2 linked regions of the Homo sapiens genome follow. The protein of the gene in region 2 interacts with the protein of the main gene of each other region in a biochemical or structural test. Each region holds a gene or a part of one and is shown on either strand. Other genes may lie near its edges. The genes, in order: CLK4 and MITF.

Region 1 (7,278 bases), on a different chromosome or scaffold from region 2:
CCACCAAAAACATCAGAATGTTTGAAAAGGAAAAAACAAACTTACATGCCATGATCAATGCACTCTACAACTTTGCCAAAGGCTCCTTCACCCAAAGTGTCCACGATTTCATCTAGAGTGAGGAGGGAAAAAGAGGTGTAAGTACCTGAGTACAAACTGTCTAGTTCTTCAAACAATGAATGCTTAAGTGTGGAATATTTTCAAATGATCTCTAACAAAGCATAACTAAGGTTTCAGCACTCAAATTATTTTAGTTTCAGCTGCTACAAAAACAATTAGATAGAGCTATCTTTCTTGCTCTAATCTCAAATTCCACTGATTATTTTGGAACTTTAGAATAGAAATATTTAAATTCTACAGAAAAGAAGAAATATAAAAGAACAAACAAACCCACAAAAAGCAAAATAAAAAAGCAATGAAGAGTTCTTTAGCCCCCCGCTGACAAACTATTCTTAAAAAGATTATTCTTTCTGCAAAGTTTAAAAAGTGTTGAAAAATATTCTATACATCTTGCTCTTAGAACGTCTCCACTTTGACAGATCAGGTGACCCTCCTCATCATCCTCTATACTCCTGGATCTTTTCCTTCGGTGGCTCTTCTGGAACGGCAAGTGGGCAGCACCAAGATCGTCCAGCCAATCAATATATCAGAGTGAATTCAGGGCAGAATACGCAATTCATTCAGCGGGGAGATATTCAGGCATTCAGATAAGCACCAGGCCACGAACAGTTGGCAGGAGCAATTTCAAATTCAGTCCCCAGAAATTCACAGGGCACAGTTTATGTTACAGAAGAAAAACATGGCAAGGAACAGATTTTCAGATAAGATACTTAAAGTGGCAATAGAAAAAAACAACACAATTGTCTCTTTAAAATACTGATTTAATTGAAGTCTGAAATTTAAAGAATGCAATGTCATGATTTACTTATCTCTTGCTATAAACAGCATATGCTGTGAATTGAGATGTCTAGTTTTTCAGAAAAATGTTTTAAAATGTCAAGACTATTTGAAATTATTCTAATTTAGCAATATTTTAAAATATACATGATTAAAATAAAAGGGGAAAATAAAGGCTAGTTAATTTCAATGTTCAATCTAATAAAAACTAGTTTTACTGAAGAAAACTTGGGGAGAAACTAATTCAAAGTTCACTGTTCAAGCAGGTGAAGATGTCTGAGTGTTAAAAAAAAAAAGGGGGGGGCAGACTTTTTGGATGTTTCCCATTCAGCACCCATTTTCACAACTTCAAAAGAATTCATTGCAGACAATGATGCACTGGACTATGGAACTATGCTCTATGCAGGTTAGTAACATTCAGGTGTCCACCAGTGCAATATTTCACATTTATTTTCAAGTACCAGATAAAGGGTTTCTAAGAAAAAAAAAATGCTTAAGATGAAAGAAAAGATATGGGTGCATGATTTTTTCATAAGAATATGTTACAAATAAAAAAATAGTTTTATTATTAAAATCAATAAACTCATTATCTGGTCTGCAGAATATGAGGAAATGTGGGCAAATGAGGGCTAGCTAATAAATATACAGATCAGCTACAAGAATTTGGAGGTTTCCTTTAAGGATTTAAGTAATATAAATACAATTATAATATATCCAAATAGTATTTTATATATATATATATAAAAAATTAGAAACTTATCAGCTCGTTAAGAGTACACACAAATAAAACTCCACTCAAATTGAAAACAAAACCAATCATACCGAACGTGACTGATGACTTGAACAGTGTCTATTGCGCTTCCTTTTAGGACTGCTTCTCCTGCTGCGGACTGAAGATTTACTGCAGTGGATTCGATACCCGCTTTCAATGTCTCTGTGATAATGTCTAGGAACATATCCTTCACAGTAGTCATTCCTGTATTCGTCAACGTATCTCCGGTCCCGATAATCTCGCTCATTCAAGGACCTTGCTTCTAAATAATGACTGCAAACACATTAAAAGATTTCAAATTATTCTCTTCATTCTGCAATAATGTGGTTCAAACAAAACATTTTCTCAGAAATTCTTAAACAGCTAACTCAATATAAGAAAAAAATTCAAACAGATGAATTAGCATTTATATTTATCTCATAAAGCTTAAGAAATAATTTTACTTTAACAAACAAGCAAATGGGCCCATTATAGAGTTTGCTGTCAAGCACTTCACACCAAGGAATAAAGCTTGAGTCAAATCATTAATTCATGTCTAGTGTTTACTTGATTAAGTGTTCCTTTACCTTCTGCACCTGTATCTAAGCTGTCTTAGTCTCTCACAGAGGTACAATCAGAGGCAGGCAAAAAGGATTCCTTTCTCTTGTAATGTAAGAGCATTTTAGATATCCCTGGCACAGAGAGAATTCCTTCATGAAAGGTATATTAGAGCTATAAGGAGCCTTAAATGTATTCCAGCCCTTTCATTTTACCGACGACTACATTAAGATCCCTAGAAGAAAAATGATTTACCAAGGTTGTATAACAACATTAGTGACAAAAACTAAAATATTTTCAAACCACTATTATACAGGCCAATTTTATTACACACAGCATCTATCATGTCTCCTCTACTCTTTGCATTTCTAGCCTTGTTATTCCTGTTTGAGAAATAGAAAACATAGCTTTTGAGGACTGCCTCATGTGCCAAAGGCATCTAAAATATATCCCCCTAAAATAAGAAAGGGATCCTGTAGTTTAGCATTACAATAGTTCCACCACCCTACTTCCCTTTGCATTTCTAATTTCCTGTCATTCCTGTTTGAGAAATACCTAAGAAACAACAGAAAACACCATCATCTAGTGCCATCGTGCTTTAATCTAGAGATCCCTTTGAAAATCTGCTGAAAGCCATGGACTCTCTTTCCTAAGAAACACATAAACAAAACTTGGCAAGGAATTTCAAAGGTCATGGGCCTCAGGATGTCAATGGATCCCAGTTAAGTGGCCTTGATCTGATGGAAAGAAAAGGACATAGATTCAATTGGCCCAGTTTCCCGTCCCCCTCTCTACCTGGGATGAGTGTCCTCTTCAACAGAGTGCGAAGCTTCAAGAGGGATGCACATGGAGCACTGAGGGAGAGAGGGGACACCTGCCCAGTCAGACACATCGGCTAAAATAAGCCTAACAAGCAATGGAGTGACGGATGTTGACTAGATTGCCCTCACCAACCCCTTTCCTTTCCCCAGAATATGCTGTCATTCTTTTTCCCAGGGGGCTGGTTTAGGCAGAAATAGAAGCATCTTTACAACTACTACCCAATAGGGCTAGCATCAAATCCAGGCTGGGGAGATACAGAAACCCGGTTCTCTTTCCCTAGCATCAGCTTTAAGTTGTATTTATTGGAGAAACAACTCAGGATATTTGGGTAAGACTGTGGGTAGTCTAGGTCAGATATCTGATCAGTTGGCTTGGAACTGTCAGGGAGAGATCACCAATACAATAAGCTAGACGTGACCATACTCTTAAGGGCATCCTTCCCATAAAAGTCCAAAATCCTTCTATTAGAAAAAACTAGCACTAACAATCTTTAGCTGGAATACTGCATGGAATTAGAGCTGCTAAGCCATAAACAACGTATAGAGTAACAAAACATGGAGTGAACACCATGAGGACAAACTAAAAGGATGAGAGTCTCTTCAATAGATAATGGCCAATGACCAAGGCTGAGAGATTATATAAACAAAGTCTACAGAATTACACAGGCTATGGACAGGGTAGACAGGATGAACAGACTGATTTAATTTTTTAAAATATCCACTGAATGCCCAGTGAATATTTCACTATAGCCTTTCAAATAGCCAAGACGGATGAGGGTAAGGGCATTCGTTTTTATATCCACACAGGTCCTGTGGGAGATAAAAAAAAAATTATATAAGGCAAAGTCCCTGCCAACAAATAATGAACAATTTGAGATTACTCACATAAAAATGAAACAAAATCCAACAATGTAGGAAATTCTAAAAGGTTACAACACATGAGTGCTTAGAGTCAGAGATGGGGGAAAAAATCTGTTTAAAATGGTCAGAGAATAATTACAAAAAAGATGGAAATAGAGTTGCATCTTAAAGGGAAGCCAGGATTTGGAAAAAGTAGAATACAGAAGAAATTCCGGGGGAGAAGAATGGCATATTACCATCTTAAATTCATATGGCACTTTTAGCCACAATGGCTTAGAGATGGAATTGTCTATGCATTACTCAGGAAAAAGACAATCCCAGCAAGAGCAATTTTCACATAGGGGAATGTAGACAAATAAGTAAGCTGAGAATAGCATCATTAAAAACCCTGCGTGCTAGGCTAAAGAGTATTATTTCTCAAAGGACGGTCTATTTATCAACAGTATCAAATATGGAGTTCTTATTAAAAATGGTAACCCTGGGCCTTAGGTCATACTCACTGACTGTAAATCTGGTCAGCATACCTCCAAGGTGATTCTTATTCACACTAAAGTTGGAGAATCACTGGTTTAAGACTTGATACTTTATGTTACAGGCTTCTGACCACAATATATAAAGGTAGGGTTTACAGCCACATCAGTCTTTCTAATGCAGAATGGATTAACTAAGCCTGTAGAAAGGGAGACCAATTCACAGGCTACCTCCAAAAGACAAATCATAAAGAAAAGACACTATGCAATATATATATGACAAATGGTTAAAATATTGTAATAAAAAGCTCTTCTAAATCAATAAAAATACTTTAATAAATAGGCTAAGAATAAAAAGATGTTCAAATGATCAATAAATATATGACAGCGGACAAATTCGTTAGAAATTTAAAAATTCAGTTTAATCAAAACATTATGCTTGGCCTTTCAAAACAGCCAAGATTGGTGAGAGCATGAAGGAGCACGTTGTATAATTTGGCAAACTCTCTAGAAAAAGAAATATGAACCTGTAGCAAGAAATAAGAGTTCACATGCTTTAACTTAAAAATGCTTCTTCCTGGAGTGTATTTTCAGGAAATAATCAGTGGCAAAGATTTAGAAACAAAGATTTTTTTTTTAATTATAATTTTACAGCTAAATAATGGGGACTAATTTCCTACAGAGATTACCATCTTTATACTTTTCTGCATTTTTCAGTTTTTTGTTATTTTATAAAAACACTCAAAGTTTTTGACCTTCAAAAATTAGAATATTCTGGATCATGGTAAACGCTGACCACCAAACACATCTGGTACAAATATCAAAGCAGGCACTGGCCTGGTGGTTAACTGGACTCAGTATCATGTTTACGTAGTTAACTATGAGCACAAATGAACTGTTCATCACTCATATCACTTCCTTTCTATATATACAACGTATAATTATCCTATGAATAACCAGTACTATGACGTTAAGCCTTAGGGTTTTTTGTATTTATTAATAGTGGGGTACAGATGGTTTTTTTTAGTGTACTGTACATTAATTATTAATTATCTCTGGTCTCTGAAATCCTGTCATAAACCTTCCCCCTTCCCCTTATATAACAATGCGTATGAAGCATGATTTGTCTGCACTGACTACAAATAAGCTGTTTGGCAGAACAAGTCTGTTAACGTGGAGAAGGAAAGAAATTACATACTGTTTTTTAAAGTAACCCCAGCTGGCTAATTTAGAAAGCAATCTGGTAAACAGTCCCAATGGAACATCTGCACAAAACGAGAAAACAGAACCAACAAAACAAACGAAAAAGGGAAATTAATGAAAGAGTGAAAACTTACCTAGCCTTTCTTTAATCATTTAGAACTTTAAGATTCCTTTAATTCTATATAAATATATTACCTCCAAATTGTACACTGGTAAGAATACAATAAAACAGCACACATGCTGTTGCAAGTTTTTATTGAGGCCATTTCCCAAATTACTAGCTACTACCTATGCAAAAGAATAGTTCTTAAATAAAGCCAGCTTCTAAAAATCCCAAACATATCCCTTGGCCTCATCTACAAATATAACCTGTACGACATGGTATAAGTGACTAATAATACATGCTGCTTTTCTCTGTTGGAATAACTCCTCCCCTATAAAACCCTACCTTATTTCTGAAACAATGAGCACTACAACATACCCATCTCCCTCCTACATACAAGTTAAAGGTACTCATTGGGCATTCTATCACTATTACTTAACTTTTTGTGTGTCATCTCCCTAATCACGTTACTGGCAGTTGGGACTCACCATGTTATTTAATACATTTCACATTCACTTACTGATCAACTGTCTCCTACCACTCCCAGGCAGACAGACATACATAAGGATAAGAACTTTGTTTTATTTACAGCTGTAGCCTCAGCGCCTATCTAAAATAAGTACTCAAATATTTTCTAAACGAATATTTGTTGACTGAATTATAAAACAATTTGACAGATGAAAGCTATATAAGCAAATGACAAATCATTTAAAACTATTAGAGCTAAAATGCTAGTAGTTCAAGAGTTAATTTACCAATCAGATTCTTTAAACTGGTGATGTGGTTTACAATGCCTGTTCTCTTGTGTGCTACTATGAGATCTCCTCTTCCGCTTGTGACTTCCACGATAGCTTTCATGTCCCCAGCTTTCTCTGCTATCCCAATCAGGACAGTGAGTTCTTTTGGAATGCCGCATCTGTTGATAGAAATGAAAAGGGAATTGTGGAGGTTACAGATGTGTGATAGGTAAATTATTATATATTAATATTATTTAAGTTATCAAAACCCAACACACAGGGTCTTACAGGCTCCAAAATCTTTTTAGGTGGTAATGCTTCCCAAGGCACTGGTATGTCAGATGACTGCTAAGAGGCATAGAGATCTAGTATTAAATTGTGGGTAATACTGATACCTTAAGACATTTTTTTTTTTTGAATTCTGATTACAGCCAGGACAAATTCTCAGCTTGGTGCTTGTCTTCAACTAACACTTGCTAACTGCCTTTTTAAAAATTAAAAAAAAGCCGGGGGGGGCAAATAAAAAGGTTCAGGCCTAGTGTTTCCAGCAGACAAGAGTATTTAGCTAAAAATTAGTAACGTTTTTATTTATCTTATTTTGTTACTTTCTACTTATTAGTGATTTTCCAATTAAGTTATTGACATATTTTCTTTTAAAAATGTTAACATTAAAATGTGAGCTGATTTAAGGAGAAATAATATCAGTGTCATGCAGCTTTGGCAAAGTACTGTAATACAAATAACTGAAGTGCAAGACAAAAACACTTAGGGATACTAAATATGGGAGGTGACTTTGTTTTAATGGTAAAGAGCTATTCAATGATGAAGCTTCTTTTTCTCAAATTCTCCATAGTTCTTTTCTCTAAATCTCAGAATG
Region 2 (7,607 bases):
TGGAAGGGCCTGGGGTATTCCAAAAACAGTGAGGAGACCAGCCTGGCTGTAGCAGAGGGAGGTAGGAGGCAGGCAACAAGAGATAAGGTCAGAGCTGACATCTTAAGAACCTTGAATTTTACTGGGAGAAATTAGGAGCCATGGGCAGGTTCTGGGCAGAGAATGACAGGATCTGACTTGAGGTTTAACACAGAGTTGCTTGACCTCAGCACTACTAACAATTTGGGACCAGATAATCCTTTGTTGTGGGGGCTGTCCTGTGCACTGTAAGATGTTTAGCAGCATCTCTGGCCTCCACCTACTAGATATGGGTAATGATCCCTTCCACTGTAACAATCACAAATGTCTCCAGACACTGTCAAATGACCCCAGGGGCAAAATCACCTCCAACTGAGAACCAGTTTTAACAGGAACATTGTGGCTACTATACTGAAAATTCACTAAATGTGGGTATTGCAGTTTAAAAGACTACTGCAATAATCCAGGCAAGGGCTGATGGTGGCTTGGACCAAAGTGGTAGCAGAGGAGGTGGTAAGAAGCGGGCAGATTCTGGACATATTTTCAACTCTAACAACTCTGGACAATCCAGAGAAGACAGTTGATAGGCAGAACGGCTACAGCAGTCTTCACATATCAATTTCAACTTTTTCCGACAAAGACTTGTAAGAAGTGAGGTGCCCCAGCAAAAACATAAGACAAAAAGCAATGAGAGAGAAGGCCCTGAACAATGTGCAGCCCTTTTAAGTCACACAACAGATGTCGACGACAATACCTTAGACAACTGTGGAAAACAGTATAGAGAAATGTTGCCAACTCCATATATTTATTCACAGATTTTATTTAACTGGTTTATTTCAAAGAGCATGTGTGTGCTCCATATACAAGTTTTACAACAACTTTTTTAATTTAGCCTTCCTTTCCCTGCTGGTTCAGGCCCACACCTGTTTCTAGCATTAACGTGTGAAGCCATTTCTTCCCACATACCCACATTTTCCCTTACACGTGCCTGCTAGCTAGCTACTGAGGACGTTCACCCTTACAAGTCTTTTTTGCTGACTCTGAAAAAGAACAGGCCCAAATCGTGCAACATGAGTTTCACGGCACTCATTTGGGTTTTTCCAGATGGTATTTTCCTCGCTCTCTCAAACTGATTTAATGTTATGTATCAGCTACCATCAGAAATGTTCCAAACAGTCCGGTTAATTTATTTCTTTCAGGATTCCACACACACACTCATTCCCTCATTCTGGCCGTGTAAGCATTTGCTTATAGAAGCAAAAGCAGAGACTGCCCAGTAAAACACTGGTCCCTTCAGCCGAATGCAGATAAAGCCCTGATGAGCATAACCAACAATACCCTTCACACAATATTACTCAAAACCCCCAGCCCCCAACACACACAATCTATGCTCACACACAAAACAGCCATTATGAGGAAAAACCACCAACTAAAGGCTGGTTTTATACGTCCAACTGCTTAGGCGGTTTCCTTCCAATCTGCCGTGAAGCATCTACAAAGAGTCTTCAGCAATGGCAGTCAGTAGGACCGCTGTTCCCAGATTTTCTTCCCCAACTTGGATAAAGAGTCCTGCCACAGCCCTGAAGGAAATAAACCTGGCTGCACTTTCCACTAGAAAAAGAACCAGCCCAGTGCTCGCCAGAGGCCAAGATTACACCACTTGGCTCCCCGTTCAGTTGCCCTTCTCCACTCACCCTCATTTCAAGACCCTCTCCCACTCTGCCAGCCAGGCCCATTCACCCAGGCCCCATCCACAGCGAAGGGCAAGGCAGGAAGTTACAGCCGAGTGCAGAAGCCCTGCTGGATGCTTCCAATGATAGCCTTATCCTAGCTCACAGCTTAGAGGGGTGGAAATAAACCCTTCTCAGCTATTCCAGCCTCCATTGACCATGTCCCTTTTAGGAAACATTGTAAACGAGAAGTACGAGGCGTCCAGAGTGGCTGCCGGACAGAGAGAACGGAAGACACCCAATCCATTTCGACAGACAAGTGGGAATGGAGGCAGCAAAAAGGGTGGCTCAAGGGAAGTGGGCACTAGAGGGGATGGGGCATCAGAGCAGTGGATGTCTTCACTCCTCGTCTAAAAAGTTTCTGAAGTCCCCAGCGAATTAAACACGTGTCTCTGCCAAGCGGGGTACACTCCCAGTAACCCCCAAGACCAAGGCTCATTTCCCCTCTGCAGGTAAGGCCTGGATTTGAATGGGACTCTATTTCCAGAGAGTTTAACTTGAACAAGGGGACACGCCCACCGCTGCCCTGGCCCCTCCCGCGCCCGCTAGCAGCGGTCTGGAGGTGAGAGGCGGAGCCCAGAGAAACCTCACCTGCAGGAGCCCAGAGGCTAGTTTCCCCACAGAGACCGGACTCCCAAGAGGTGACTCCAAGCGAACTAATTGCTTCCCTCCAATGTCGCATCTCAGTCCACCCAAAGCTCTCCCTCTCCGAGCCCTCAACCCGCTGGGATCTTCAGAAAGGGGGTTCACTAGAACTCTTTCTCCCCCATCCCACCGGGACAGCGTCCCGGCCCGGCGCTCCTCCTCCCCCACATCGCGCCAGGTCGCTCCCCAGCCCCCAATCAGTCTCAGCAGCTGGCATCCTCGGCCGAGGGTCCCCGCGCCTGGACGCTTCGTCCCCGGCGACCCGCCGCGCCCCCGCGAAGTGCGCTCCATCCGAGCTTCCTAAAGGCGCACTTGGGCCGGGCAGGCGCGGCCCCCAACTGCGAGGGGCAGTTCGCCCTCTGCTCCGGGGCAAGGGCACTGGGTCCTTGTCCCAGAGCTCCCGCGACCCGCTCTCCTCGCCCCAGAGTGGCAGACGCAGTGCCCCCCAGCCGCCCGGTGCGCCTCTGCCCAGCTGTCACCACTCACCTGCTCTTCAGCGGTTGACTTTTGAGTTCGTAATAGGTTTTGGGCTCTTCATGAAACTCCTCCCCGACTTCGAAATCCGGCACGATCCCCGATTCGGACTGCATGGCTCCCGCTTCCCGTCCTTCCACTGCTGGAAAGTGAGAACAGAGCCCGGGGGCGGAGGGAAGGTAGCTGGGCCTGGGTCCCCCGAGCCGTGCGCCCCGGCGCAGTGCCGAGCTCTGCCCGCTCGCCGGCTCGCGGCCGCCCGCCCCAGCGCGGGGAGTTTACACTCGCACCCGGGCGGGAGGGGCTGGCGGCCGAGCGCCGCCTGGGATCTGTAGTTCGGCCCGGGCGGGGCATTCCCAGCTCGCCTGGGGAGCCGCTCCCACGAAAACTACAGCTCCCAGAAGGCCAGGCGGGGGAGAGGCAACGTGGTGGACACCGCTAGTGCAACTCCTGTTTGGATTCATTGTCAATGTCAGCAGCTCCTCTCCCTCCTCTCTCCCCACTTGCTTCAAGGGTACAGACTTGGCTACTTAATATGAATAAGAATGGACACTGACTGCTCTTCTACCATCGCCCCGACCTCTCAGCTCAGACATCTGCGAGGGCACGCCAAGTGCTTATTTTAAAAATAAAATAGTCAAGGGTTTTGGCACAAGAAAGTTTTAGCATTCGAGCCTGTCTTAAAATAAAAGGACTTCCTATCAGCTCGCATGCTTCCCTGGGCTGCTGCGACATATCAGCTTGTCCTCGGATTGGAACAACGAGGAAGAACTTTCCTTCGCTCTGTAATGAAAACGTTATTGGAGAAATTGTTCTTGTGCGTTCCTTTTCTAGAACTAAGTCTGGACTTTTACAATAGTATTCATCAGTTGAATGGCTCTTTCCCCTTTATCCAAGTAGCCACTTCTAATCTACAGCAGCAATTGAAAGATTCGGTTAATTTTAAAAGGCACAAAGTTACAAAATAGCGTCGTTGCTCTCTGCTTTTAATTTCTCAGTTGACTGGGAGTTCAAATGAGATTTGTCCTAGCATTTCAGGAGTGAAGATGTACAAGTGAACTGTACAAGTGTCCACCCCTTCCCGAGCTTCCCGGAACTCACTTAGGGAAGAGAATTTTAAAACTCTCCGTTGTGGCTCATTTGTACTTCTAGTTCTTCCCTCTGATTAGCTCCAGTAGGACGTGTTCCTTCTTTTCAAAAGTGTTTTGAGGCATCAGGGAGGCAGTATAGAGTTACAGTGGCATTTAAAGGTATAAGACTCAGAGTTGAAATCCCCAGTCCTTCTAAGAAGAGCTGTGCAATCCTGAGCATGTCACTTGGTTCCTAGAAGCCTCCATTTCTTCATCCATAAAAGAAGAGATTGGCAAACCAGTTTTAGAAGATGTTGCAAGGTCAAATGTAAGAGAAAGTGATTTGCAATCTATAAAAACTCTGCTCAGTGGTCATTCTTTATTAGGTCTTGAAGTTATTCCTTTCAGATTAACATCTCATTTTGGTGTTTGGCCTTTCAGAATTAATAAACTAAATGACTGTCCTAGGAGAAAATTCTAAAGAGGCTACAGTGACAACTGGGCACCTCCCAGGAGTTACCCCTTTGCATATCTTGCCTCCCACTGAAACATTTTAATTTCACATCAGAAAAGACATCCAGTAGGATGGATCGATGTTAGGGCTGGAGTTCTCAAGGTGATTTGGAAAAAGTGCAGAAGGCACACTATGTTGCAGTAGCAATTACCAAATTTTCAGAATAAAAATTAGTCCCCAACATACGACTTTTAGGCCCTCCCCTGAAACTATTAAACTATGTCAGAATACCTGAGAACACCCCTAAGGAAAGTGGGAGTTTTGTGCTCATAAAAGTGGGATCCTAGATTCCTTAATAGATGGACTGCTGGAAATTAGCTGTCAAAAGCAAACAAAGAAAACGTGTTTCCTTCATGTTCTCTGGGAGAGAAAGAAGAAAGATCAAACATGAAGGAAACATGCAGTCTAGACTTCTAATCTCATCTGGGCTCTCAATTATCAGTGCTTGGAATATGGGAGGAGGGGTTGTCATAATAACTTATGGATGTTACAGACGTTTAAGGGGTATGGGCCAGAGACACTACACATATTGCACAATAACAAATTTTCTTGTCCAAATTTCAGTGGTATGTATCCCCATTGAGAAACATGGGAAGCTGCCTAATCTTTGGGCTCACCAGAAGTTTTTTAATCTGAGGGAAGCTACGGATCCTCTTCTCAGAAAATACAGATAGAAACAAAACTGTGCATAATTTTGGTCAGCTGACCCACTGAAGGCTATCACAGACTTTATGTTACAACTGCAGTTTATAACTTCTTTAGATCTGCAGTGAAACAGTCTACCCATCACTTATTACATCAAATAGTGACCTTCCAGACCTAAGGGACTAACCTCAAAGGAAAGAAAACTCAGGAAAACCAAGACCTCCGAATTCATCTTCAACTAAGTACACCCGCAAGAGAGGTCTCCAGGGTGCAGACCTCTGAGCTGAGGTTGTCCTGAGGTTCACACAGATAGCTGTTATTTTTTTCTCCTATACCTTTTCTTCTGGTCTCATCCTACTCCTTGTTCAGGAAAACTTATTTTCCATTACATATGGCTGGGTTATCCATTACAGTGCAGTCTGCTACCCAGTGCATTCTGATTCCTTTAAGACTGGACAGGGGACCTTGAGATGACTAGAAGTCCTCCTTAGGACTTCTCTGCTAGGGCAATGGGAGAAGACTGTTTGCTTTGCTAGAAAGAAGAAAATCTGGAGCTACTTACCCATGGGCAATTAGGGAAGCTAATTTGAAATGGAAGAGAATGAGATAAGATCAACAAAAAGAAGAAGAGACAAGCAAAGATAAAGAATAGAAAAGTACGACAACATTGTTTCACTTCCTTGTTCCAACCATACCTGAAGTCAGATATCCTTGGACTTTTTAGATATATGAACAAAAAAAAATTCCTTTTTGCTAGAACTATTTTTTTGTCACTTGCAACCACAAGAGCTTCGCATAATCACCATAAAAATATTTCACTCCTTTAAATGGATGATTTTCTGTGGATTGCTATACCATTAATCCACATAACCAAAAGCTGGCCACCTGATAGATGTACCCTGTAATCCCTCTTCATTAATGAGTTAAGCCCTAGGGTTAGGTACCACTTTGAAAAATAGATGATAACAGGCAATAGATCCATACATTTAAACTAAAGACTGAGCCTATTAAATGTACAAAAGCAATGACTACAGATTATAATTGTTGTTATTAATATTACATGTATTTATGTAATACATTACTTTTTACATACACTTGTCACATACATCTCTTATTTGAGCTCACAAAAATCCTTCAGAGATGGATAGGCAAGGGTTCCCCATTTACTCTATACTAAATATGTGCAAGGTATGGGCATGGCAATGTGTTAGGTACCTGGAATACAAAAATATATTTGACTTCCTCCCTCCCCTCATGAAGCTTCCAGTCCATGAGTTGAGTCAAGGCTTGTAACACAATGAGAAACCACACATAAAGCAGCAATGCTAAGCAGCAGATACCCAGTGTATGATTTGTACTCTCATATCCTCTTAGCTCAACAGCTATTTTTGGTGCATCCACTCTGTGCCAGGCACATTGTGCCCTAGGTATGGGGAAATAGCAATGATGACACATATGTGGTCCCTGCACACAGGACATGGTCCTTGACCTTTTAGGAGTAGAAATGGGCAGGATTTAATGGATAACAAGAGCGATAGATAAATACTACAATTGTCTAAGAAAAGAGCAACCACTGGGGGTCGGGATATTAAGACTCCTGGAAGCGATGTGACTAAGCTCCATCTTTTAAAAAAAAAATCTAGGGTATATGAAAACTAAATGTAATCAAGCCCCTAGGTCTAACCACCAGTTCACAGGAAAAAAAATGCAAGAGAAGACCACGTCAATAACATCACAAAAATAGAATCAGACAACCCAGAGATTTAAAAATTCTGTAAGACATTGAGAAATTCTTCAAAAAATAAATAGCATGAAATAAAGGGGAAGGAAGAACTTGTAAAGGCTTTAGAAGATTTAAGAGACATATTAGGCATGTGAATTATATATCAATAAAAAATGAATTAGAGGCTGGGCTTGGGGGTTCATTCCTATAATCCCAGCACTTTGGGAGGCCAAGGTGGGAGAATTGCTTGATCCCAGGAGTTTGAGACAAGCCTGGGCAATACAGAGGGACCTCATATCTACTAAAAATTATAAATAAATAAATAAACAGGAAAAAAGAGACATATCACTGAAATACCTTATGTGGACTTTATTTGGACCCTGATTAAAACAAACCAATTGTAAAAATTCATTCTGGGGAAAACTGGGAGAGTTTGAACGTGGGCTGGAATTGAATGACATTTTAAAAGTATTGTTAATTTGTATTAGGTATGATAAGTATATTATGCTTATCTCATTTTTATACTCTTTCTGTTAGAAATACATATAAAGTATGTATGGGTGAGATGATATGATGTCTTGGAGCTGTCATAAAATATCCCATCTCCTCTCCTTCTATCTCCAGAAAGGCATGGGAAAAGAAATATGAAACGTAAATGGTAAAATGTTGAAGCCAGGTGACAGGTTATGGGAATTCACTATACTATTCTATCTACTTTAGTGTAAGCTTGAAAATTTTCATGATCAAACATTTTTTAAAAAATAAAGTAAGAAAGAAAAGAGAGAGGAAAC

The links.
Region 1: the proteins of MITF (region 2) and CLK4 form a complex in vitro, tested with the Homo sapiens proteins (one study listed by BioGRID).

The regions. Positions count from the first base shown.
Region 1 is NC_000005.10:178,616,837-178,624,114, forward strand, and holds part of CLK4 (dual specificity protein kinase CLK4), read right to left. Parts: intron 6,581-7,278; coding exon 6,420-6,580; intron 1,943-6,419; coding exon 1,720-1,942; intron 599-1,719; coding exon 508-598; intron 113-507; coding exon 46-112; intron 1-45. UniProt on the Homo sapiens protein: Dual specificity kinase acting on both serine/threonine and tyrosine-containing substrates.
Region 2 is NC_000003.12:69,734,974-69,742,580, reverse strand, and holds the start of MITF (microphthalmia-associated transcription factor), read right to left. Parts: upstream 3,118-7,607; 5' UTR 2,984-3,117; coding exon 2,880-2,983; intron 1-2,879. UniProt on the Homo sapiens protein: Transcription factor that acts as a master regulator of melanocyte survival and differentiation as well as melanosome biogenesis.